Homo sapiens: one gene and its partners. Each later gene encodes a partner of the first gene's protein in a complex. Each region holds a gene or a part of one and is shown in the gene's direction. Other genes may lie near its edges. The genes, in order: MED31, MED16, MED20 and MED7.

What was found.
Region 2: MED31 (region 1) and MED16 share a complex: the UniProt entries of both Homo sapiens proteins name them as parts of the mediator complex.
Region 3: MED31 (region 1) and MED20 share a complex: the UniProt entries of both Homo sapiens proteins name them as parts of the mediator complex.
Region 4: the proteins of MED31 (region 1) and MED7 are in contact, whole or in part, in a cryo-EM structure (PDB 7EMF), measured with the Homo sapiens proteins. Residues at the interface, in NP_057144.1 of Homo sapiens: Asn14 (codon at 5,995), Arg15 (codon at 5,998), Leu16 (codon at 6,001), Arg17 (codon at 6,004), Phe18 (codon at 6,007), Gln19 (codon at 6,010), Leu20 (codon at 6,013), Glu21 (codon at 6,016), Leu22 (codon at 6,019), Glu23 (codon at 6,022), Phe24 (codon at 6,025), Gln26 (codon at 6,031), Tyr33 (codon at 6,052), Phe36 (codon at 6,061), Leu37 (codon at 6,341), Tyr42 (codon at 6,356), Asp45 (codon at 6,365), Ala47 (codon at 6,371), Phe48 (codon at 6,374), Asn50 (codon at 6,380), Tyr51 (codon at 6,383), Tyr54 (codon at 6,392), Tyr57 (codon at 6,401), Glu62 (codon at 6,416), Tyr63 (codon at 6,419), Lys65 (codon at 6,425), Tyr66 (codon at 6,428), Lys68, Tyr69; in NP_001094286.1 of Homo sapiens: Met15, Gln16, Tyr17, Ile18, Lys19, Tyr21, Thr22, Asn25, Ile26, Lys33, Pro34, Pro35, Pro36, Pro37, Ile38, Lys39, Asp40, Tyr42, Met43, Met44, Phe45, Gly46, Gln48, Gln50, Asp52.

The regions. Positions count from the first base shown.
Region 1 is NC_000017.11:6,648,600-6,656,416, reverse strand, and holds the start of MED31 (mediator of RNA polymerase II transcription subunit 31), read left to right. Parts: upstream 1-4,811; 5' UTR 4,812-4,888; coding exon 4,889-4,916; intron 4,917-5,983; coding exon 5,984-6,061; intron 6,062-6,338; coding exon 6,339-6,435; intron 6,436-7,817. Other genes in the region: uncharacterized protein C17orf100, read right to left, coding at 4,147-4,503. UniProt on the Homo sapiens protein: Component of the Mediator complex, a coactivator involved in the regulated transcription of nearly all RNA polymerase II-dependent genes.
Region 2 is NC_000019.10:876,160-883,188, reverse strand, and holds part of MED16 (mediator of RNA polymerase II transcription subunit 16), read left to right. Parts: intron 1-1,474; coding exon 1,475-1,630; intron 1,631-3,040; coding exon 3,041-3,252; intron 3,253-6,008; coding exon 6,009-6,215; intron 6,216-7,029. UniProt on the Homo sapiens protein: Component of the Mediator complex, a coactivator involved in the regulated transcription of nearly all RNA polymerase II-dependent genes.
Region 3 is NC_000006.12:41,918,115-41,926,103, reverse strand, and holds the start of MED20 (mediator of RNA polymerase II transcription subunit 20), read left to right. Parts: upstream 1-4,964; 5' UTR 4,965-5,085; coding exon 5,086-5,099; intron 5,100-5,160; exon of another isoform or gene 5,161-5,304; intron 5,305-7,989. Other genes in the region: BYSL (bystin), read right to left, coding at 4,274-4,541. UniProt on the Homo sapiens protein: Component of the Mediator complex, a coactivator involved in the regulated transcription of nearly all RNA polymerase II-dependent genes.
Region 4 is NC_000005.10:157,136,924-157,139,894, reverse strand, and holds the end of MED7 (mediator of RNA polymerase II transcription subunit 7), read left to right. Parts: intron 1-446; 5' UTR 447-463; coding exon 464-1,165; 3' UTR 1,166-2,471; downstream 2,472-2,971. UniProt on the Homo sapiens protein: Component of the Mediator complex, a coactivator involved in the regulated transcription of nearly all RNA polymerase II-dependent genes.

The DNA.
Region 1 (7,817 bases):
AGAGCTGTGTGGAATGAGGGGCGCTCAGGAGCATCCCCTTAATTCCAAGGAGATCGAGTAGCGGAAACATTTATTGAGCGTTTACTGTGTGTCACCAACTGCCCACCATAGGGAGGAAAAAAGGGAGGAGGGAGCGCGCCTTTCCACCTTCCGTGCCCCGTCCCCTCACCATGGAGTCGCGGGGCCACCTGCTCCGTGCGCATTTTCTCTCTTTCTGGCTCCCTTTGCCCCGCTTTCTCGGAAGCTCGGAGCAAGGGCGTGGAGTGCGGGGAGCAGGGCTCCGCAGGTTCAAGAGGACGCGGGCGATCGGGGGCGGGACGGATATTGGGCAGGGACGCGGGAGATGCTCAGGGTCTAGAACTGACTGCGCCGGATTCTTGTTTAGAGGGAGGTGAAGAGAGGAAGGAGGCGCGGGTGACACCGGGGGAGGCAGGAGGAGAGGGCTGGGAGGTGGGGAGAGGGGAGGACCTCATCCGGGCATGTTGCTTTGACGTTCCCTGAGACAGACATCCGGATTTGGCGATCTGGGAGAGAGCTAGAGCAGTGATGGGAATTTGGGCTTTCGCGGAAGAAAAAAAGTAACAGGACCGGGTAGAACACCCGGTAGATATGACATGAGATATGACGGGAGGTGGGTCGGGAAATCGAGAGCGTTCTCCTGTCTTGACTCCCCATCCCTTCCCTCTCACCACCCACTCCACCCCAGGTGATAAAGCCTGAAAGGTAGAGATCCAACAGCGCTAGCGGTTGAAACGTTTTTTAAAATAGAGAAAGCGAGAGGACCGACGGCGGCTCCGGTGACTGCTGAGTTTCCAGACAAGGGAGCTCTGTGCAATGAGGGGCGCACAGGAGCATGCCCTCAATTCCAAGAAGATCAGGTAGCCGGAAAATTTATTAAGCGCTTACTGTGTGCCACCTGCGTGTTTTCTGTCCAAATCAGAAAAGGATTTGGACAGAAAACACGCAGGAAGAAGGAATCAACCCCTGGTACAGCAGGCAGGCGAGGTAGGGGTAGGAGTTATGCACGTGTATGCAAGCCTGGATGGCTGGGAAGCCAACCTCCATCTAAAGGCAAGCGCGGACATGCACACACACACACACGCCTCACAAGTTGGATTGCAAGAGAGGGTGAAGTGGGCGAGGAGACCCAGTCAGCCGTGGCATTTGAGGAAGGTACATTTAGGCCACCGAATTCATTCCACCAACTTTGCACACTTGTCTTCCTTGTGCCAGGCTCTGGGACTCATTCCTTTTGAGGGTAAAAGTCTGCCTCCCTGGACTCCTGCCCCTCAGGCGCTCCCACAGCCCGGCACCGCCCCCTCGCCATTCCGGAGCCAGCGCGGGCTAAGCGGGCCTGGCCGGGGATGAGCGGAGCCACCGTCCCCATATTCCTCGGTGCCCCGGGACCGCAAGAGGGAGCCGTGGTTTCCGGAACTCCTCCCGCCCCTCCGGGCTTTTCCTCTGTTAGGCAGGTGGCGATTCGCTGTCTTTGCCTGTTATGGCCGCTGCCGTCGCCCTGGAGACAGGTGAGTAGCGCTCTGAGCCTGGAGTCTTCGCAGATAGAACTCTCCTTGGCCCAGACCTCTTCTCCCGCTTCCCCTGGGCCTCCTTCCAGGCCTCACTCCCGGCAGGATTAGTATTTGGACAGGGAGGAGAGAAGGCTCTTGCAGCGTCTAGAAAGGCTAAGGTACTCTGCAGTTTTCCTAATTTGGTTTGTTCGCACACCTTTGCTATTCAAACACGACCCCACCAGCTTCCCAGCGTGGGCGAGACTAAGGGAGAGGACTTGTGTCTTAAAGCGTGTCCTCCTTGTGTCTTAAAGCGTGTCCTTGATTGGTTTTCTGCTTCTCACATGAGCTTGCATACGTTTGAAATATCGTCGCCAGACCTGTGTATCATTGTGTTACTTGTGATTCTTATATATGCATATGTTCCATCATCTTTTAGGCTCTCTGGAGTCTCTTGTTCAGCTTGCATCCTAAGTTTTTCTTAACTGATTCAGCACGTGCTTTTGCGAAACTTAATCACTGTTAACAATTGTTACAATGCATTATTAAAATAGGGGAAGCCACAGTTATTACAGCCTACCTTAGAGATCACTGTTAAAATTCCTACATAGTGGCCCATGAGTGGTAGGTATTGTGTCTCATTTGTGTTGCTGTTTTCTTTGATGATTTCTCTTTACTTTTAAAGGTAACCCTCTTCCATGACTGTTCCTTAAAGTGGTGCGCTGTCCCAGTAGACCATGCTCTAGCTTTCCAAGCTGCTAGAACTGTCAGTGTTTCTCAGCCTTGGCACTATTGACATTTTGGGACCAGTGATTCTTCATCGTTGGCAGAGGGGAGGGTGTTGACCTGTGCACTGTAGGATGTCAGGTGGCATCCCCGGACTCTACCCGCTAGGTGCCAGTAGCACCTAATGTGCCACCCACCCCCTCCCAACAACTTTTCAACCAAACTAAAATGTCTCTAGAGGTTGCCATATATCCTCTGGGGGACAAAATCACACTTAGTTGAGAACCACTGTCCCACATTCTACACACAGAAGCCAAAAGGATATTTTTTAAATGTAAATGGCATCATGTCGTTCCCCTGTTGGAAACCCTTCAATGTTTTCCTGTTGACCTTAGAATAATCTCAAATTCCTTACTGTGGCTTAGAAGACCTTCTGTGGACTGGCCCCTGCTTGCTTTTAACTCCTCTCTTCCGTTCTGCTTCCATGTCTATATAATTGCTTCTCTCTCACTCCAGCCACACTGGCCTTCTTTCTGTTCCTTGAACATTCAAAGCTGGTTCCCATCCACCCTTTGTATTTGCTGTTCTTCTGCCTAGAATGCACCTGTTCCAGATCACTGTTCATTCACACATATCTCAGATTACATGTTAACTAATCAGCAAGGCCTTCCCTGACCATTTTATCAAAAGAAGCCACTTACTTCCATTCTCTATCACATTACCCATGTATTTCCTTCATAGTGCTAATCACAATAGAAAATTGTCTTGTTTCATCATTGCTTGTCTGCCTTTTCACCAGAGTGTAAGCTCCACTAGAGCTGGGACTTTGCCTTTTTTACTGCTATAGCCCAAGTTCCCAGAATACAGACAGTTCCCAACTTAAGATGGTTTGACTTATGATTTTTCGACTTTACAATGGTACAAAAGTGACATTCAGTAGAAATAGTACTTTAAGTACTCTTACAACCATTCTTTTTCACTTTTAGTACAGTATGCAATAAATTACATGAGATATTCAACATTTTATTATAAAACAGGCTTTCTGTTAGATGATTTTGCTCAACTTTAGGTGTTCTGAGCATGTTTAAGGTAGGCTAGGCTAAGCCATGATGTTTAGTAGGTTAGGGGTATTAAGTGCATTTTCAAATTACCATATTTTCAACTTACAATAGTTTCAACGGGAGGTAACCCCATCGTAAGTGGAGGAACATCTAGTGCCTGGCACAGAGCCGGTTCTCAATAAATATAACTCTTCTCCATCTTCTTCAAACCTCAGGCCAGGTTTCAGTGACCTCCTCTCACTTTCTAAGATTATTTTTGCTTGCTGGTGGGTTTACTGTCATTTTTAACCACATCTAACCTACCTTAAAAAAGTGTATGGATGGGGGTGCCAGGTACAAAGACTTAGCATAAAGAAAACGACCATTTACTTTGAAACATAAACAAAGGCCAATTAATAATTTATGAGTCTGTTCCTTGTCCCTCGAGTTTTTAGCAGGCATGGAATCATTCCACAGGTCATTATTTCAGTTTGGTCTCTGTTCCTAAGGGGTGAAGGTTTTCTGAGGGCTGTGGATCCCAAACTCACCTGGCTCAGAGGCTCAAACAGCCTCTCTTTGTCCATCAACCCGATTTAGACAGCATCCTGGGCCTGAAAACCTTCTGTGCTGGCTTCAAGTGAAAATAGTTCACTGGGTCAAAAGTAGGCTGGTCCAAGACGCAGGACGGTCAGTAAACGTTGGCTGTGTTCAGAAACTGCGGCTTGGCTGTTTCTTACATTGATTTATGGTTTGTTTCCATGAAACCGAAAATGATTGGTCCACCTGGCAGCTGGCTGGCTGGCTGGCAACTGGAGGCCTTTCTGTCCTGGCTGAGGGCCCTGGCCCCTTGGTGGCCTTTGGGAAGCAGCATCTCATCGGGCCGTTTTTTCGTTCTGGCGGGCGGCCGGCTTGGCCCGCGGGGTCGGGCTCTCCGCGCAGTGCAGAGACGTCTCCACCCTCAGGGACGAGGCTCTGACGTGGCGGGAGGTCGTTTCCGTGCGCTGCGAGGAGGATTCCACGTGCCGGGAGGACGCCTCGAGGATGCGAGGGAGCCGCTTCCCCGAGGGGGAGAGGGAGGGCCCCTCGCTGCGGCGCTGGGAGGTCTCCACCCGCCGGGACGACGTCTCCACGCGGTGGGACGAGGTCTCCACGCGGACCGTGGACGTCTCTGTGTAGCGGGTGGTCCCCACCCGGGGCGAAGACTGCTTGGCCCCTCGGGCTGAGGCCATTCTGCCGGCGTGAGGGGGCCAGGGAGGCCTCGGGGCACCCTACAGCCCAATGGTCACCGCAGGCAGAAGAGAGGAAAACTACGGTACTGCCATAGCCGGGAGCGCCACAACACGATGACGTGGAAGCACCATGGTCCTTCGAAGGCTAAAACACTGGACTCCTGCCCCTCAGGCGCTCCCACGGCCCGGGCCCCGCCCCCTCGCTATTTTGGAGCCAGCGCGGGTGGAGCCATCCCAGGGCTGGTCGGGGATGGGCGGAGCCGCCCCGCCCCATATCCCACAGTGCCCCGGGACCGGAAGAGGGAGCCGTGGTTTCCGGAACTTCGCCCGCGTCTCTGGGCTTTTGCTCTGTCAGGCTGGTGGCGTTTTGGTGTCTTCGTTTGTTATGGCCGCTGCTGTCGCTATGGAGACAGGTGAGTAGCTCTCTGATCTTGGAGTCTTCGCAGATGGAACTCTCCTTGACCCAGACCTCTTCCCCGTGGCCTCCTTCCAGGCCTTACTCTTGGCAGGGTTAATATTTGGACAGAGAGGAGAGAAGGCTCTTGTAGCGTCTAGAAAGACTAAGGTACTCTTTGCAGTTTTCCTGATTTGGTTTGTTCGCACATCTTTGCTATTCAGACACCACCCCACCAGCTCCCTGGCGTGGGTGAGACTAAGGGAGAGGACTTGTGTGTTAAACCGTGTCCTCCTTGATTGGTTTTCTGCTTCTCACATGAGCTTGCCTAAGTTTGAAATATCGTCGCCAGACTTGTGTATCATTCTGCTACTGGTGCTTCTTTTTTTTTTTTTTTTTGAGACAGCGTCTGGCTCTGTCGCCCAGGCTGGGGTGCAGTGGCGCGATCTCGGCTCACTGCAAGCTCCGCCTCCTGGGTTCACGCCATTCTCCTGCCTCAGCCTCTCAAGTAGCTGGGACTACAGGAGCCCGCCACCGCTCCCGGCTAATTTTTTTTGTATTTTTAGTAGAGACGGGGTTTCACTGTGTTAGCCAGGATGGTCTCGATCTCCTGACCCTGGTGCTTCTTATATGCATGCGCTGCATGATCTTTTAGGCTCTCCGCAGTCTCTTGCATCCTAAGTTTTTCTTTACTGATTCAGCCCCTAGCGTTTGCGAAACTTAATCACTGTTAACAGTTGTTACAACGCATTATTAAAATAGGGGAAGCCACAGTTATTACAGCCTACCTTAGTGATCACTGTTAAAATTCCTACATAGTGGCCCACGAGTGGTAGGAATTCTCCGTTTGTGTTGCTGTTTTCTTTGATGATTTCTCTTTAACTTTAGAGAAACTTCTAACTTACTCCTTTTAATCAGGGCTCCGCTTTTCTTAGATTTCGAAGGAAGGTTTATCTCCTCCCACTCCTAGTTTAGGAAGACCATCTCAACATTAGTCAGGTTTCTTTATTGCTCTTTCCTTACTACAAATCAGTATTATATACAGTGACCTTTGTTTTCCATGATTTTTGCTGTCTTGTCTCCTAGATGATGCTGGAAATCGACTTCGGTTTCAGTTGGAGTTGGAATTTGTGCAATGTTTAGCCAACCCAAATTACCTTAATTGTAAGTTGTTAAGCACCTCATTAAATTGAGTAGCTATTAATGATTTCTGACAGAAGAGTTGCAGTTCAAAATAGTATCTACTTTTACACATTCTCAGTTGAATGACATTACACTTATGCTGGTATATAGATATAATTGCGTACTGGGACTTGTGTTTTGAATCCAATGTGTGTTGGTGGTGGGGGTGTTATGTAAATAGATCCTTTATATTAGGGGTAACAAATCACAGTTTAAGGATTGGTTTGACCTACAGATTTTTTTTTTTAATGCTTTTCAGTTCTTGCCCAAAGAGGTTACTTCAAAGACAAAGCTTTTGTTAATTATCTTAAATACTTGCTTTACTGGAAAGACCCAGAATATGCCAAGTATCTAAAGTAAGTTTAATTTTTATAATCCTAAGCATGTGTATACTTTATTATATAATAGATTTCTTAGTTTCACATTGGCAAAAATGTATTTGGAATCTCTCCACTTCTTTTTGTTATCACCGTCTTAATACAAGACACCCTCATCTCTAACTTGTAACACTGCAGTAATCTACTCCCTGGTTATCTGTGCTTCCACTTTTACCTTCCTGCCCCCATCTCCACCCCAACCCAAACCAAGCAAAACAGCTTTCTACACAGAAACCAGCTTAATCTTTTAAAAATATAAATCAGAACACTTTACTTTCTTGCTTAGAACCTTTCAATGGCTTTCCATTCCATGCAGAATAAAATCCAGTCTTTTTTCTTGGACTAAAGCCTTATACGATCTGGCCCTGCCTTTTCTGACCTTGTCTTTTACCACCCTTCCCATCTCACCAGGTTTCTGGTCCCTAAGAACTCACAATCTGTAAATGTAGTAGCATAAGCCATGGGCTGAAATTAAAAGAGGGTATCTGTAAGGAAGGTGTTTCTGGGGTTATTTGAAGGAGGTGATCTTACCTGAGTCTTAGAGTTGCTGTCTTTTATTTAAGGCCTCTTATTTGCCAGGAACAGTGCTAAATGCTTCATATGCATTAACTCATTTATATATATATATTTACCATTCAGGTCGTTCAGCAGACACTTTCATGTTAAGGCTTACTAAGTTGCAAGAAACATATTATAACCACAAAGCAATTCCCTTTTAATGGTTAAAAAAAAAAAACAAAAAAAACAAAAAAAACCAACCCACCTTGAACTCACACCCCTGCTTTGTCTTAAGCAGGTAGAAAGCAATAATGAACCTTTAAAAAAAAAAAAAAGTTTGAGAGGAAAATGTTTCAAACTTCTCTCAAAGTCACTTTTCTGTGTCCAATAACAATTGACTCACGAAGCACATACGTCTTATGTTGCCTGCAGGACCGTTTGCACCTTTTCTGGCTTTTTATCCATTTAATAATCCAAAGAACAGACTTTTAAGAAAAGTAGACTTCAACGAATATTGTATGTATGTAGATTTACAGACTCAGTGTTGGAAGCCTTAGCCACCAACAAGTTTAATCTTACCCACAACGTTGCCGAGAGATGGTCATCTACACTCTGGAGGTTTCCATTGAGCCCGTGTTACTCTGTCAGGGACAGCTGATTCGATTGTTAGCCAGATATTAGAAAGTTCTTCCTTATATTGTGATATAATGTACCTCCTTGTAGCCCCAGTCTGTTTGTCCCTGGATGAAGCTAGAACCATTCTATACCCTCTTGAGGACAACAGCCTTCCAGATATTTACATTCAAGAGAGACTGCAAATTAGCCCCTTTTGGGTGTTTTATTCAGTCTGCAGAAGATTTTAG
Region 2 (7,029 bases), on another chromosome or scaffold:
TCCCCACTTAGCAGCTTAGCTTCTCCCTGCCTCAAGTCCCCCCTCATTTAGGAATGCTGACCGCAGCCGTCAGTTGGATGGAGGAGGGGATGTAAATCGTGCTGTGAGGGTACCCTGGCCACTAGCTGGGGGTGTGGTCGTCATGGCAGCTGCCTCCCCCGGCGCTGGGGCGTTGAGTTTCCTGTCTTTCCTATGAGAGGCTCAATTCCATGAGGGCCAGCCACCCCTGACCACTGTGTGCCCTCTGGGCGTCTCAGCCACTCTCTGGGCCTGTTTCCCCCCAGGGAATGCTGCTCACAGGACCCCTATACGGGTTTGCAGGAGGTCAAGGCTCTGTGACCGTGATGGCCCGTCCGGGGCAGAGACCTCATGATGCGGGTGGCACAGAGCAGCTGCGTGGTAGTCAGCTTCAGCCGAGTAACAAGCCAGCCCCAAACTGAGCAGCTCAGGCCAGCAGCCCTGCACTGTTTCTGTTTCTGTGGCTGCCTCAGCTGCGCTCTCCTGGTTCCCACGTGTCTGCGGTTAGCAGCCGAGGTGGCGTGGCCTGTCCACTGGCCGCACATGCTCCAGCAGGCCGGCTCCAGCTGCCCTCCGTGTCCCACATGCAGCCACAGCAGGACCCCCCACACGTGCTCTCTGGGCCACTGTTTTTGTTTTTTGTTTTTGAGCTAGGCTCTTGCTGTGTTGCCCAGGCTGGAGTGCAGTGGCGTGATCTTGGCTCACTGCAGCCTCATCTTCCTGGGCTCGAGCAATCCTACCTCAGCCTCCTGAGTAGCTGGGACTACAGGCGTGTGCAGGCGTGCATCACCACCACACACAGCTAATGTTTACTGTGTTTTTTTTGTAGAGAATGGGGTCTTGCTGTGTTGTCCAGGCTGGTCTTGAACTCCTGGACTCAAGCCATCCTCTGGCGTTGGCTTCCCAAAGTCTTGGGGTGGCAGATGTGAGCTGCTGTGCCCGGCCATGTCACATTTGCTAAGGCTTGGCCTGAGATTCCCAGAAGTCTCTGCCCTGTTGGGAGGAGCTGCGTCTTCACGCAGGGGCTGTCAGGCAGCGGATCTGTGGGTGCGACCATCCCGCATGGCTTTATTGGAATTGTAGATGAGGAGGGATGGGAATCCCGGCTGAGCTGGCTAAGGCCGAGCGAGTGTTAGGGTTTGCATGGCTGCAGGTCTGAGGTGGCGCCGTCTCCCCACTGTCTGCCCCATCGGGGGTGAGATGGTGCCGGCCCACAGGTTTCCATGAAATCCCAGGGCCCACCTTGGGTCACGTGCCCATCCTGGAACCAATGAGTGGCCGAGGCACGAAGCGCTCGGATTGGCCGGGCCTGGTCTTCTGGGCATGGGAGCAGGGCGGCATGAGACCTGGGAAGGGCCCTGGGCAGGTTGCACACCAGGCCATGCTGGACTCCTGCGGCTGTCTCAGCCTGTCTTTACTCCATTGCCTTCCTGTTTTCCTGCCCCTGATTTTTCAGTTGGCGACAAACAGCCCACAATTCTCAAATGGCGGATCCTATCGGCCACCAACGATCTGGACCGTGTGTCGGCCGTGGCGCTGCCCAAGCTGCCCATCTCGCTCACCAACACCGACCTCAAGGTGGCCAGCGACACACAGTTCTACCCTGGCCTCGGTACGGTGGAGCCAGCGGCAGCCACGCGGGGCCTCAGTTCACACCAGGGGAGTTGGGCCCTGAGCACAGGCCACGGGGTCGTGGGAGCTCACACCAGAGGACGTGGGCTCTGAGCACAGGCCATGGGGCTGTAGGAGCTCAGCCTTCTGGGTTCTGATGGGTTCCCAATTAGGAGGCAGATCTCATCTTTCGGGATCTGTGAGGCTGGCAGACAGATCCAGTGTTCTTTAATATGTAAAGAGTCATTGCAAATCAACAAGGGAGCCTGGGGAACTTGGTGGAACTCCTTCCTGGGTAGGCGGCATGTGTCCTCTCTGTGCTGCAGCAGCCATAATGTGGTCCTGAGCTCAAACCGTGGCATCCGTGCCCATGAGTGAGTCTGCACACTCTTCAGTGCCTACCCTATTTGCTCAGCTGTAAAATGTGGACAAGTCGGCCCTAGCTCAGGCCCTTTCTTCCCCCAGCTCCCGTTCTTCCCTGGTTCCCTGGAAAGAGCATTTATCAAAACCCGCTCGGGGCTCAGGGCTGTTCCTCAGAGCCTGCAGAGAGGTTGAGGGGATGCAGTTCCCTGCTCCAAAACCCTTGGTTTATGCTCCATTTTCCAGGCTCTATTTTTTTTTTTCTTTTTTTTTTTGAGTTGGAGTCTCATTCTGTTGCCCAGGCTGGAGTGCAGTGGTGTGATCTCGGCTCACTGCAACCTCCGCCTCCTGGGTTCAAGCGATTCTCCTTCCTGCCTCAGCCTCCCGAGTAGCTGGGACTACAGGCGCGTGCTGCCACGCCCGGCTAATTTTTTGTATTTTAGTAGAGACGGGGTTTCACCGGTGTTGCCCAGGCTGGTCTCGAACCCCTGAGCTCAGGCAATCTGCCCGCCTCAGCCTCCCAAAGTGCTAGGATTACAGGCGTGAGCCACCGCGCCCGGCTTTGCAGCCTCTCTACTGCAGGGACTCCTTTCATATTCTCTTTTCCATGAGCTTTGGGCTCTGGACCCCACCTCCCCCCGGCCCTCGTACAATGGCAGACCCCAGTGTGAGTGACAGCCCCAGCCCACCACCCTAAGATGCCTCTCTTTGGGACGCCAGGAGCCCCAACCCTTGGTCCCCCACCTGTAGTGCCCCCCTCCCCTGCGCTCCTTGAGGGGCGTGTCAGCCAGGACATGGGCCCAGCTGGGAGGGGCGGGGAGGGGCTGGGAGCAGTGTGGCCAAGGCTGCTGGCTCCTGCTCCCCTGGTGCTCAGGGACTGTGTAACTAAAGAAAGAGTGGCTGGGGGCACGGGCGCTGGATGCCGATTGGCGGGGGCTGACCCCCTGGATGGGCAGCCCCGGCTCTCCACACCCTGCAGAGCAGGAGGCCCCTCCCCCGGCGGGCGTGTCCTGGGCCCTGCCCATGTCTAAGCAGTGCCTGTGCCCCACAGGGCTGGCCCTGGCCTTCCACGACGGCAGCGTCCACATCGTGCACCGGCTCTCACTGCAGACCATGGCCGTCTTCTACAGCTCCGCGGCCCCGAGGCCTGTGGATGAGCCGGCCATGAAGCGCCCCCGCACCGCGGGCCCCGCCGTCCACTTAAAGGCTATGCAGCTATCGTGGACGTCACTGGCCCTGGTGGGGATTGACAGCCACGGGAAGGTGAGCTGCTGGGGCACGTGGGGCCGGGGCTGGTGGGCATTGACAACCAGGGGAAGGCGAGCTGCTGGGCATTGACAACCAGGGGAAGGTGAGCTGCTGGGGCACGTGGGGCTGGCCCTGGTGGGGATTGACAGCCAGGGGAAGGCGAGCTGCTGGGGCACGTGGGGCTGGGGCTGGTGGGCATTGACAACCAGGGGAAGGCGAGCTGCTGGGCATTGACAACCAGGGGAAGGCGAGCTGCTGGGGCACGTGGGGCTGGGGCTGGTGGGCATTGACAACCAGGGGAACGTGAGCTGCTGGGGCACGTGGGGCTGGGCTTGGGGGGCATTGACAACCACGGGAAGGTGAGCTGCTGGGCATTGACAACCAGGGGAAGGCGAGCTGCTGGGGCGTGGCCCTGGTAGGCATTGACAACCAGGGAAAGGCGAGCTGCTGGGGCACGTGGGGCTGGGGCTGGTGGGCATTGACAACCAGGGGAAGGCGAGCTGCTGGGGCACGTGGGGCTGGGGTTGGTGGGCATTGACAACCAGGGAAAGGTGAGCTGCTGGGGCATGTGCGGCTGGGGCTGGTGGGCATTGACAACCAGGGGAAGGTGAGCTGCTGGGGCACGTGGGGCTGGGCTTGGTGGGCATTGACAACCATGGGAAGGTGAGCTGCTGGGCATTGACAACCAGAGGAAGGCGAGCTGCTGGGGCATGTGGGGCTCGGCTTGGTGGGCATTGACAACCATGGGAAGGTGAGCTGCTGGGCATTGACAACCAGGGGAAGGCGAGCTGCTGGGGCACGTGGGGCTGGGGCTGGGGCTGGGGCTGGGGGGTATTGACAACCAGGGGAAGGCGAGCTGCTGGGGCACGTGGGGCTGGGGCTGGGGCTGGTGGGCATTGACAACCGGGGGAAGGTGAGCTGCTGGGACATGTGGGGCTGGGGCTGGGGCTGGTGGGCATTGATAGCCAGGGGAAGGTGAGCTGCTGGGGCACGTGGAGCTGCGGCCGGGGCCGGGGCCGGGGCCGGGGCCGGGGCTGGTGGACATTGACAACCAGGGAAAGGTGAGCTGCTGGGGCACGTGGGGCTGGGGCTGGGGCTGGGGCTGGTGGGCATTGACAACCAGGGGAAGGGGAGCTGCTGGGGCACGTGGGGCTGGGGCTGGTGGGCATTGACAACCAGGGGAAGGGGAGCTGCTGGGGCACGTGGGGCTGGCCCTGGTGGGGATTGACAACCAGGGGAAGGCGAGCTGCTGGGGCACGTGGGGTTGGGGCTGTTGGGCATTGACAACCAGGGGAAGGTGAGCTGCTGGGGCACGTGGGGCTGGGGTTGTGGCTGGTGGGCGTTGACAACCACGGGAAGGTGAGCTGCTGGGGCATGTGGGGCTGGGGCTGGGGCTGGTGGGCATTGACAACCACGGGAAGGTGAGCTGCTGGGGCACGTGGGGCTGGGGCTGGTGGGCATTGACAGCCAGGGGAAGGTGAGCTGCTGGGGCACGTGGGGCCGGGGCCGGGGCCGGGGCTGGGGCTGGTGGACATTGACAACCAGGGAAAGGTGAGCTGCTGGGGCACGTGGGGCTGGGGCTGGGGCTGGGGCTGGTGGGCATTGACAACCACGGGAAGGTGAGCTGCTGGGGCACGTGGGGCTGGGGCTGGTGGGCATTGACAACCAGGGGAAGGCGAGCTGCTGGGGCCCGTGGGGCTGGGGCTGGGGCTGGGGCTGGTGGGCATTGACAACCAGGGGAAGGTGAGCTGCTGGGGCACGTGGGGCTGGGCTCGGTGGGCATTGACAACCACGGGAAGGTGAGCTGCTGAGCATTGACAACCAGGGGAAGGTGAGTTGCTGGGGCACGTGGCGCTGGGGCTGGGGCTGGGGGGCATTGACAGCCAGGGGAAGGCGAGCTGCTGGGGCACGTGGGGCTGGGGCTGGGGCTGGTGGGCGTTGACAACCACGGAAAGGTGAGCTGCTGGGGCACGTGGGGCTGGGGCTGGGGCTGGGGCTGGTGGGCATTGACAACCACGGGAAGGTGAGCTGCTGGGGCACGTGGGGCTGGGGCTGGTGGGCATTGACAACCAGGGGAAGGCGAGCTGCTGGGGCATGTGGGGCTGGGCTTGGTGGGCATTGACAACCACGGGAAGGCGAGCTGCTGGGGCACGTGGGGCTGGGGCTGGGGCTGGGGCTGGGGCTGGTGGGCATTGACAACCAGGGGAAGGTGAGCTGCTGGGGCACGTGGGGCAGGGGCTGGTGGGCATTGACAACCAGGGGAAGGCGAGCTGCTGGGGCACGTGGGTCTGGGGCTGGGGCTGGGGCTGGGAGGGTGCCAGAGGGAGGCGCCCCCGGGGGAAGGGACCACAGGTGCAAGCCCCTCGCCAGCCCCTGCCTGCGCTGCCTTGTCTGTGTGATGGGTTCGTCTTGTTGAGCGAGGTCAGTGGGGTGGCTCACAGCACGTATTAGGAGCTTCGTAACTAGGAGCTGTTGAGAGGACCGCCTTTCACGGGGTAGACTCCTCAGGTAAAGCAGACGAGTGTAAGCCTGGCTCGGCATCCAGTGCAGTCGGGGCTCAGGGAGGTTTCCTTCCCTGTTCCCAGAGGCATTGTGCATGACCCTGACAGAAAGGTACAGACGCTACAGACACATGCGCGCACACAGGCCCACACACGGGCGTGCGCGCACACAGATCCACACACGTGCCGCAGCCCCAGGGCCCCATTCCTCTCCCGGCTGAGGGCGCAGCCCCATCTCACCGGGCTCTCCTTGGGCTCTGTCTCTGGCAGCTGAGCGTGCTCCGCCTCTCACCTTCCATGGGCCACCCGCTGGAGGTGGGGCTGGCGCTGCGGCACCTGCTCTTCCTGCTGGAGTACTGCATGGTGACCGGCTACGACTGGTGGGACATCCTGCTGCACGTGCAGCCCAGTATGGTACAGAGCCTGGTGGAGAAGCTGCACGAGGAGTACACGCGCCAGACCGCTGCCCTGCAGCAGGTGGGGGCCCGTGGCAGGTGGGGCCCCGTGGCAGGTGGGGGCCCTGTGGCAGGTGGGGGCCCCGTGGCAGGTGGGGCCCCGTGGCAGGTGGGGGCCCCGTGGCAGGTGGTCCCGTGCCAGGTGGGGCTGTCCCTGTGGCAGGCAGGGGCCCCGTGGTCAGTAAAGTGCCAGCAGCAGGGAGGGAGTTCCCTTGGAGGGTGGAGGAGGTCTCTGCAGCAGTTGTAGAGGTCCCCACGGCAGATGTGGGGGTTGTGGCAGCTGGAGGGGTTTCCCTGCGGCAGGTTGGGGGCTCTATGGCAGGCGGAGGGCAAGAGGGGCAGGTAGCCTGTGGCAGGTGAGGCTGCGTGTGGGGTGTGCTCCCAGAGGCCCGTCCAGGAAAGCTGCACCTCAGAGAAGCAGTTTCCTTCCTTACCTGGGAAGTTTCTTCTGTAACACGTTAAGCCCCACAGGTAAGGCCTGATCCCCCCTGGACGGCTCCCCTCTCCAGTGTTCCCAGTCTGGAGGTATCTTTCTAAGCCATCCTCTCAGAATGTGATGGGTACCAGGATGCACACCCGGTGGCCCTGTGGTGTGAGGCCTCAGCAAACACGGTCAGAAGATGAACACACAGAGACCCGCCCGTCGGAAGGAGAGGAGGGAGCGGATACGGAGGCCCACGTGCCAGAAGGGTCCCTTGCAGTGGTGTGGTTATGTGCCTGCAATCCCAGAGTGTCCTCGAAGGACCTCAGATCTAACGAGCTCAGCCGGCAGCTGCACGTGGGACCAGCCCTCTGAGCTTCACTTGTTTTCCTCTGTGCCATCAGAAACCAATACG
Region 3 (7,989 bases), on another chromosome or scaffold:
AGGCAATAGCAAGAAATAATGCTAGGTACGTGGGAAAGGTGAAGCCAGACTGGAGGGCCTTTAAATTCAGGCAGTAGAGTTCAGATTTCAATCCACCAGTCCATTTAAATACATGAAGTTGGCTGGGCGTGGTGGCTCACGCCTGTAATCCCACCATTTTGGGAGACCAAGGCGGGTGGATCATGAGATTGGGAGTTCGAGACCAGCCTGACTAACAGGGAGAAGCCCCGTCTCTACTAAAAATACAAAATTAGCCGGGCTTGGTGGCGCATGCCTATAATCCCAGCTACTTGGGAAGGCTGAGGCATGAGAATCGCTTGAACCCGGGAGGTGGAGGTTGAGGTGAGGTGAGCCGAGATCGCGCCACTGCACTCCAGCCTGGGCAACAACAGCAAAACTCTGTCTCAAAAAAATAAATAAATAAATAAATAAAAATAAATAGGCCGGGCGCGGTGGCTCACGCCTGTAATCCCAGCACTTAGAGAGGCCAAGGCGGGCGGATCACGAGGTCAGGAGACCGAGACCATCCTGGCTAACACGGTGAAACCCCGTCTCTACTAAAAATACAAAAAATTAGCCGGGTGTGGTGGCGGGCGCCTGTAGTCCCAGCTACTCGGGAGGCTGAGGCAGGAGAATGGTGTGAACCCGGGAGGCGGAGCTTGCAGTGAGCCAAGATCGTGCCACTGCACTCCAGCCTGGGCGACAGAGCGAGACTCCGTCTTAAAAAAAAAAAAAAAAATGAAGTTAGTCCATTTAAATAACTTCTGTTTTTGGAAGGCTACATGTCTGGGCATCTGGAAAGGGGTCTAATAATCCAAGTGGGGAGCTATAATGCTACGTATCAATAGGTCATTAACAACAAAGGCAGTGTGTGATAAACACTAAATAAGGGGGAACAGACATTTTGTCTCCACGTTCCAACGGTCCCCCAAATTTGTACTTTGTAGGTGGTTCTCCTTAGTGCCAGACCCTAACTCCAGGTGTCTCCTGTAAGCTGCTCTTGGATGACTCACAGGCACCTCAAATCTCACCCGTTATCAACTAAACTAATTTTCTTTCCCTCCTAGGTCTACACTGCTAACCATCCACAGCTCAGTAAACGGCACCATCGTCCACCCAATGCTAAGCCTGGGAGGTACTCTTGCCTCATCCCCTGCCCTCACCCTCAACACCCAATCAATTACTAAATCATATTCAATTTTACCTCATAGACTGTCTCTCACATGCTTCACAGCCCCATCTAAGCCTAGATCAGCATCATCTCTTGCCTGGATTTATTCAACAGTCGCCCACTGGTCTCTATGTTTCTGACCTTGCTTCCCTCCAACTCATTTTCCACTCTGCAGACGGTCACCTTCCAGAAACACATATTTGATTTGATCAGCCCTGTCCTTAAAATTCTCCAGTAGCTTCCCATTCTTCCCACTGCTGTTAGGATGGTTTTAAAATCTTTTGTAGGCTTGGCTCCCACCTACCTGACCATCATTCATTACCGATTAACCCAGTCATTCAGCAAACACCAAGCACCTACTATATGTGAGGCACTGTTCGGGGTGCTGGCAATATATCCACGAACAACCGAAACCAAAAGACTTTGTTCTATACAGCTTACATTCTAATTGGAGGAGATAGTCTACGACCATACCACCCTGAACGCACCCAATCCTGTCTAAATGGAAGAGACAGACATAAATAAACATATAAATATATTGGGTTAAAAGATAAGTACTATGGGCTGGGTGCAGTGGCTCATGCCTGTAATCCCAGCACTTCGGGAGGCCGAGGCGGGTGGATCACCTGAGGTCAGGAGTTTGAGACCAGGCTGGCCAACATAGCGAAATCCCCAACTCTACTAAAAATACAAAAAAAAAAAAAATTAGCTGGGTGTGGTGGCGGGCGCCTGTAATCCCAGCTACTTGGGAGGCTGAGGCAGGAGAATCGCTTGAACCCGGGAGGTGGAGGTTGCAGTGAGCCGAGATCGTGGTATTGCACTCAGCCTGGGTGACGGAGCGAGACTCTGTCTCAAAAAAAAAAAAAAGATAAGTACTATGAAAAAAAGATAGGGCAGAAATGCTGGGAGTATGGAGATGGAGTAGAGTGCTGCAATCTTAAATGGAGTGGATAGGCCTCTCTGAGAAAGTAACCCTACAAGTGTATGAGAACAAACTATCCCAGAGAGAAGGAACAACCAGGCCAAACCCCCTAATTTCCCACGTTTAAGGCACAATGAAGCCTAAATAGGTGGAGTGGAATGGGCAAAGAGGAAAGCAGTAGAAGAGGTCAGACTGGCAAAGGAGGCAGATCATATAGTGCATTGTAGACCATTGTAATCCCCCACCTGTGAGTACTTTGTAGAGAGTATGAGACACGGCAGGGTGCAGTAGCTCACACCTGTAATCCCAGCACTTTGGGAGGCCAAGGCAGGGAGGGTCGTTTGAGCCCAGGAGTTTGAGACCAAACTGGGCACCACTGTGAGACCTCATCTCTACAAATAATTAAATAATTAGCGGCCAGGTGCGGTGGCTCACGCCTGTAATCCCAGCATTTTGGGAGGCAGAGGTGGACGATGACCTGAAGTCAGGAGTTCAAGACCAGTCTGGCCAACATGGTGAAACCCCATCTCTACTGAAAATACAAAAATTAACTGGATGTGATGGCTCACGCCTGTAATCTCAGCTACTCAGAAGGCTGAGGCAGAAGAATTGCTTGGACCTAGGTGGCAGAGGTTGCAGTGAGCCAAGATTGCGCCACTGCACTACAGCCTGGGCGACAGGCTCAAAAAAAAAAAAAAAGAATTAGTTGGACATGGTGGCACACACCTGTGGTCCCAGCTACGTGGGAGGCTGAGGTGGAAAGACGACTGGAGCCCAGGAGATTGAGGCTGCAGTTAGCTATGATTGTGCCACCGCACTCTATCCTGGGTGACAGAGAGAGAGAGAGACTCTGTCTCAAAAAAAAAAGAAAAAAAGAAAAAACGGAGAATATGAGATACTAACGAGGAGGCTACTGTGATAATCCAGGTGAGAGACTGTGGTGGCTACGACAGGATGGTGTTCCAAAGCGGTGAAAAGTGGTCTCATTTTGGATACACTTTGAAGGCAAAGTCATCAGAATTTCCTTACAGATCAGATGTGGGGAGGGAGAGACAGAGAGAGGAGATGGTGGGGGCAGGGAGAGAGAGGAGTCTAAAGTTTATCTCGAGCAAATGAAAGAATATGCTACTAACTGAGACAGGGAAGGCAATGGTGAGAGAAGCAGGTTTGGAGGGAAGGTCAGGATTTCTGTTTTGTACATGTTAAATTTGAGCTGTCTGTTAGATTTCAAATTGGAGATGCCAAATAGGCAGTTGAATATAAGAATCTGGATTTCATGGAAGAGATCAGGGCTAGACTATAAAGTTAGGAGTAGTCACTCAAGGATGGTATTTAAACCATGAAACTTGCCAGCACCAGAGAATATTTGAAGAGGTCAGAGGACTGAGGAGAAGAGGTTGCAATAAGAGTCAGCCAAGGATACTGAGAAGTGAGGTGGCAGTAAAACAGGAGTGTTGATGTCTTAGAACCCAAGTAAGGATACTGTGGCCAGAAGGCCACTATTCAATTGTGTCAAATATTGCTTTAGATGAGATCTGAGAAACGGATGAAGCACCTCAGAGGTCAACACTCCCTCCCTAGTGAGAAAACATCAGACGTCTTTCAATTCATCTCTCTCGCTCTTTGGCTGCTAAACAATGTGTTTTCTGCTCATAACACTTCCCATTCGTTTTTCAGTTCTCAGCTTAAAGGTCCTGCTGCAATCGGAGAAGCTTCTCAAGACCAATGCTATTGTTACCAGGGAAACGATACTTTATCATGGAAATATATTATTCTAAGAGTCTACTTAATTGCCTCTCTGCTGGGCTTGACTGTAAGGTCCTTAAGTTAGACGTGCCTGTGTTGTTTACTTCTGTACCCAAACATTCGATAGAATTCCGAGCATAGCGCAAAGCTCGTAGTGGGTATCCCATAAATATTTACAAAACCAATGGATACATGCTAGGAGCACTTAGTGGCGCGATCGATTACTGTTGGCCTAACTTCGGGGGTGTCTAGAAGGGAGTGCCTAAAACTAGGAGTGGACGCGGAGGGCTCTAGACAGGGTTCAGTCTCCTTTGCAAGTGTAATACGGACCCCTTTGTTGACTCGAAGCAATTCCCCTGCCAGACACTTTTTAGCTGCCCACCCCGCCCCACTACTGGCCACTGTCTTCCTCGGACCTCATCCCAGACACTCACCCAGCCGCGTGGTGCGTTCCCGCGGCGCCGCGGGCTTGTCCCCAGTCCCATGCTCGGCCTCGAGTTCCTCCTGTTGCTGCCGTGCTTGCTGCAAAATCCGTCGGCTCAGCCGGGGCCCCACATACTCTTCCTCCGCTTCTCCTGTCCCGCGACCCCGCCGCTTCTCCCGGACCCCCGCCCGCACCGCATTCCCAGCCAGGATCTGATCGGCCAGGGGCGCATGTTTTTCCTGACCCCCCACCCCACGGGCCGCCTTGAATTTGGGCATTTTTCTCGAAAAAGTTGCCGGGAAGGATCGCACGTGGGGACTGAAGAAAGGCCAGGATGCGCTTGCGCGGTGGACTCCCAGCGCCCAAGAGGCCGCCCGGCGATCACAGCGCCCCCTAGCATTCGGAGGCCAGAAGCGCCATCAGCGCCGCCCCTCCCACTAAAAGAGCTCCCGGGTTCCGGAGCTGGACTCCCGAATATATTCACTGCCTTTAACGTTAGCTTCTCTCAATAGTGCAGTCTTTGAGTGTCGCTCTCCTAGCTTCATGGATGTAGGCCTAGAGTGCTCAGCCAAACGGGAATGTCTGGATTTAGAAACCTCGGGGCGGGAATCCGCAGATGATGTCAGTGGAGGCGTCACCGAGGGGTGCCGAGACACGCCCCATTCCTTGGGGAAGGCGTGGACCCGGCGCTCTGTTTTTACGTATTTCCGGAGTCCCTTCTGAGACAGAAGGTTGTGTTGGGGAACTGAAGGAGTTTCTGTGGGCGGACAGGGAACCCTGCGTTTCTACTGTGTGATTCTGCCACCTTCCTGGCCCGACGCCATGGGAGTGACTTGGTAGGACTGCAGGGGGTTTTGTGGGGCGGGGCTTGGAGTTGTGAAAGGCCGGAAAGAGGACCTTGACCATGGTCCGCCGTCCTCTGGGAGCTGAGGGAGATGTCCTCGGGTTGTGTAGATGAGAGGATGCCGTCCGGGCTGCGGGTTCCCCGGGCTTGTTTCCTCAGAGATGCGCCCCTTCCTCTTGGAAGGCGGGAAAGCAAAGGTTTTTTTTTTGTTTTGTTTTGTTTTTTTTAAGACGGGGTCTCGCTCTGTCGCCAGACTGGAGTGCAGTGGAGCGATCTTGGCTCACTGCAACACTCCGCCTCTTGGGTTCAAGCGATTCTCCTGTAGTCCCGAGTAGCTGGGACTACAGGCGCCCGCCACCACGCCCGGTTACTTTTTGTATTTTTAGTAGAAATGGGGTTTCACCATATTGGCCACGCTGGTGTCGACAAAGCAAACTTTTTATCCCAGGAACCTATCAATGGTTGTATACCTCATTCTCTTCTGGATACATCTTCCTTCCCGTGAGGCCATAGTACTGCCTGCAGTGGGACCTCAGGGTTGGAAATAGGGTCTTTGGACTATGACCCACCTGCAGACAGGGTTGGAGGGAGTGGGCCATAAGCAATCAGGAGATAGTATTTTTTAAGATTTTCGCCTGCTCTTCCCTCAGCCATCAAATACAGTTAGACCCGCTTGTGTCTGTTTCTAATTTGCTCATTTTAAGATCTTGGGTCTAGAGGAAAAAAGGGTATTGATAATAAGGAGATCATGGTTCCAGGCACTTTATCTCTTTAGGACCCGTTTCCCACTATGTTTAATTCCATGGTTGGTCTAGTTTCAATGGAGTTTTTATCTTTCATATGTTTTAAGTCTCAGTTGAAAGAAGATGAGGTGGCAGGGAAAGGTATGGGTCCAGTGCTCGTGGAGGCGTTAGTTGTAAGGTGCCAGGTCCCAGAACATTTTTTTCTTATCTCAGTAGATGTGAGCATTTTTCCCGTGGGAGAAATCCGGAGGCCAGGATATTTGAAGCCAGTGGATATAGGCTTCTCATACAAAAGCATGTGTAGGGGAAATACTTTTCCTCCTGGTAGCCCAGGTTCTTGCAGGTTTCTCAGTGATTGCACTCTTGCTTCCTACGATTGACACGATCCTCCTGTGTTCCTTAATGGAAGCAAGATATGTGAGGAATGGAAATGGAAAGGATGCAGCGTAGAACCCTGGAACCCTTGCTCTTTCTTTTTTTTAAAGAAATAGAAATGGGGTCTTGCTGTTTTGTACATGCAGGTCTTGAATTCCTGAACTCAAGCGAGCCTCCTGCTTTGGTCTCCCAAAGTATTGGCATTATAGACATGAGCCACCGTGCCCAGCCACCCCTGCTCTTTAAATGGAGAAGGCAGCTCCAGGGAAAGGGCTCTCTGTTGGCCCCCTTATCAACGTTTTCAGAATCCTAGGACTTCTGTCACTTGTAGCGTCAGTTTAGGGATTCTTTTGTATTTCAAAATAAGGCACATTAGCAACATCGTTTATCAGTGTTTTTTTCTGATAGAGTAGTGACAATTTTTAGCAACAGAAGGACTCTACCTTAATAGATTCATTTAGTTGATCATAAAGCAATGTCATCTATGACTGTTTTCTTGATTTCTATATAGCTAAGTACTGCTTGTACTATTGTTTATTAATTTTTTAATCGATTTTCCTTAATGTTTTAACAGGCACTACATCCTTATACAGGCAGTCTAGTTAGTGGTTAAGAGCATGGACATCAAGCCAGGTTGCTGGGCTTTGAGTCTTGAGTGTACCACCCATTAACTGTGTGACCTAGTGCAAGTTATTTAACCTCTTTGTGCTGTACTTAAGTTTCCTCTTTTTTTTTTTTTTTTTTTTTTTTGAGGCAGAGTCTCACTCTGTTGCCCAGGCTGGAGTGCAGTGGCGTGATCTCGGCTCACTGCAAGCTCCGCCTCCCGGGTTCATGCCATTCTCCTGCCTCAGCCTCCCGAGTAGCTGGGACTACAGGCGCCCACCACCATGCCTGGCTAATTTTTTTGTATTTTTTTTTTTTTTTTGAGACGGAGTCTCGCTCTGTCGCCCAGGCCGGACTGCGGACTGCAGTGGCGCAATCTCGGCTCACTGCAAGCTCCGCTTCCCGGGTTCACGCCATTCTCCTGCCTCAGCCTCCCGAGTAGCTGGGACTACAGGCGCCCGCCACCGCGCCCGGCTAATTTTTTGTATTTTTAGTAGAGACGGGGTTTCACCTTGTTAGCCAGGATGGTCTCGATCTCCTGACCTCATGATCCACCCGCCTCGGCCTCCCAAAGTGCTGGGATTACAGGCGTGAGCCACCGCGCCCGGCCATTTTTTTGTATTTTTGGTAGAGACGGGGTTTCACCGTGTTAGCCAGGATGGTCTTGATCTCCTGACCTCGTGATCTGCCCGCCTTGGCCTCCCAAAGTGCTGGGATTACAGGCGTGAGCCACCGTGCCTGGCCAAGTTTCGTCTTTTTTTTTTTCTTTTTGAGATGGAGTTTCGCTCTTGTTGTCCAGGCTGGAGGGCAGTGGTGCGATCTTGGCTCACTGCAACCTCCGCCTCCTGGTTTCAAGTGATTCTCCTGCCTCAGCCTCCCATGTAGCTGGGATTACAGGCGCACACCACCATGCCTGGCTAAGTTTTGTATTTTTGGTAGAGACAGGGTTTCACCATGTTGGCTAGGCTGGTCTCGAACTCCTGACCTCAAGTGATCCGCCCACCTCGGCCTCCCAAAGTGCTGGGATTACAGGCGTGAGCCACCATGCCCGGCAGTTTCCTCATTTGTAACAAGTTGATAAATAACACACCTTCATAGGACTATCGTGAGGATTTGGAGAGTTAATTCATCTAAAGGCCTTAGGATGCAGTCTGGCACGTT
Region 4 (2,971 bases), on another chromosome or scaffold:
TTTGTCAGAGTGTTTATGAGAGATACAAGTAAGTGTTTGCTATTGGAAATAAATCTATAACATAAAACAAAAGTGATTGTGATATGAGATTGGGAGACAGCCTGTGTAGTTTGGTTATGGAAGAGTAAAGAAATGGGGCATAAGTGGTGAGGGGCATGGAGTCCAGAAGATTTTCTTTAGAGATGAGAGGATGCTACATATTTTTTAATGCTGATGAAATTATTAGAGAGAGAATGGAAAATATGTGAATGGTTGAGAATATAATGCCTACTTAGAAAAGATGGCAGACTTTCCCTATCATAAATGTTAGTTTTAGAAACCAAGGAGATCATCTTGTCTTCGGCCCCAAACTGCTGGAAGAAAAGGAAGAAAATATTCCATCTGTAGTTATGAAATGTAACAGGTTTGTCTTGTGGCTCTAATAAATCTTTGGTCTGTGTCCATAGGTTCTTGATAGTCCACAATGGGTGAACCACAGCAAGTGAGTGCACTTCCACCACCTCCAATGCAATATATCAAGGAATATACGGATGAAAATATTCAAGAAGGCTTAGCTCCCAAGCCTCCCCCTCCAATAAAAGACAGTTACATGATGTTTGGCAATCAGTTCCAATGTGATGATCTTATCATCCGCCCTTTGGAAAGTCAGGGCATCGAACGGCTTCATCCTATGCAGTTTGATCACAAGAAAGAACTGAGAAAACTTAATATGTCTATCCTTATTAATTTCTTGGACCTTTTAGATATTTTAATAAGGAGCCCTGGGAGTATAAAACGAGAAGAGAAACTAGAAGATCTTAAGCTGCTTTTTGTACACGTGCATCATCTTATAAATGAATACCGACCCCACCAAGCAAGAGAGACCTTGAGAGTCATGATGGAGGTCCAGAAACGTCAACGGCTTGAAACAGCTGAGAGATTTCAAAAGCACCTGGAACGAGTAATTGAAATGATTCAGAATTGCTTGGCTTCTTTGCCTGATGATTTGCCTCATTCAGAAGCAGGAATGAGAGTAAAAACTGAACCAATGGATGCTGATGATAGCAACAATTGTACTGGACAGAATGAACATCAAAGAGAAAATTCAGGTCATAGGAGAGATCAGATTATAGAGAAAGATGCTGCCTTGTGTGTCCTAATTGATGAGATGAATGAAAGACCATGAAAGATGTTTCTTTTTCTTTTTTTCCTTTTGATAATAGCATCATATATTAGTTCATTTTCTTTTGGACAGTCTTAAGAGAAGTTTCACTAAAAATGTAAACAGCTTTAATCTTGACTCCAAATTTTTCAATTATGAGATGTCATAGGCAGTAATTTCGCTGTATAACAAGCATAGACAAATGAGTGTCCCTGCACTAAGAAGAATCACTTTAAAAAGCAAAGTGTTAGCTGCTGTTGTATGGGACATTCCTATGTTTTAGAGTTGCAGTAAAACTTTGATGATAACCTCAATAATAGCAAAGTTTTCGTCTTTGAAAAGGGGATTTAGCATTTGCTTTAAGAATGATAGATAAATGGATATTAAGCTCTCTACATGTAAAACTATGAAATCTTTAGACTTATTCCATTAAAAATTTTGCTTAAGCTCCAAAAAGTAGCATAACATGTTGATAGAGAGGAGCCCAGTAGAGTTATAAAATAGAAACTTCATTTTTTCCTCATGACTGCTTCTGTAAACCCACTAGCTCAGTCTTTTCTCCCTATCCTGAATGGACTCTTGCAGGGAAGTCCCATAAATTGTTGTTTTTTTTTCCAGTCACTCAGGTAATAAGTCCTTTGGTCACTTTAAGTTACAGACATTAATTTTAGTAATTAAGATGTCTGTGTCATTAGCTATACATTTTCTTTAAAGCTAAGCTCAGACTTGTTTAAGTCCACAATGGGAAAGGGGTTTGATGGCAGAGACTGCTAGGTGTCTACCAAAGATTCTTGCTCTTTGAAGATATGTTGTCAAGATGTGGCAATCCAGCCAGGGACATTTCCCTACTCCCAGCATCTCTGTGAGAACATATGACTAAGTCGTAGGCGGTGAAATGTGGGCATAGGAATCCAGGCTTGCCCCATAAACATTTCTTGCATGATCCTCCATTCTCTTCTCCCAGCTGCTGGTTGGACGGTCGTATCCAGGATAAGTTTGGAAGCCACCGAAGATGGCAAAGATTGTCAGTCTGGTTCTTTGAATGACCGTGAGGACTAAGTCTTCCTTTCAGTAACTCCACTCTGCCCCTAGCTAATTGGACTTTATATGAGCACTTTCTTCTCTTCTTCCCCCGACTGTCCATCTGCTCTTCCACCAAGGTGTTAGTGGAGAGTTGACCTTGTGTCTGAGGATCTCTGCCTGCCGTTTTCTTAATGTAGGCCCGTGGTTCTTAAAGTGTGTGGTCCTGGACCAGCAGCATTGGTATCACTTGGGGACTTACTAGAAATAAAAGTTTTAGTATAATCCGTAGGTTCAGAAAAATAAAAAATAAATGAGGGTTCTCTGGCTCCATCCCAGACCTTTTGAACCAGAAACTTCTGGGTGTAGGTCCCAGCAAGCTGTATTTTAAGAAGCCTATGTGATTATGATACATGCTCAAGATTAAGAAACATTGAGGCTGGGTGCAGTGGCCCACTCCTGTAATCCCAGCACTTCGGGAGGCTGAGGCTGGTGGATCACCTGAAGTCAGGAGTTCGAGACCAGCCTGACCAACATGGGGAAATCCCATCTCTACTAAAATACAAAATTAGCTGGGCTTGGTGGCGCATGCCTGTAATCCCAGCTACTCGGGAGGCTGAGGCAGGGAGAATCACTTGAATCTGGGAGGCAGAGGTTGTGGTGAGCTGAGATTGCACCATTGCACTCCAGCCTAGGCAACAAGAGCGAAACTCCATCTCAAAAACAAAAAAGAACCATTGAGAGGCAATGCCTTTCCCCAGATGTCTACTTTTTTATTTCTTCCTTAGCCCCTGGTTTCTAGCATAGGGA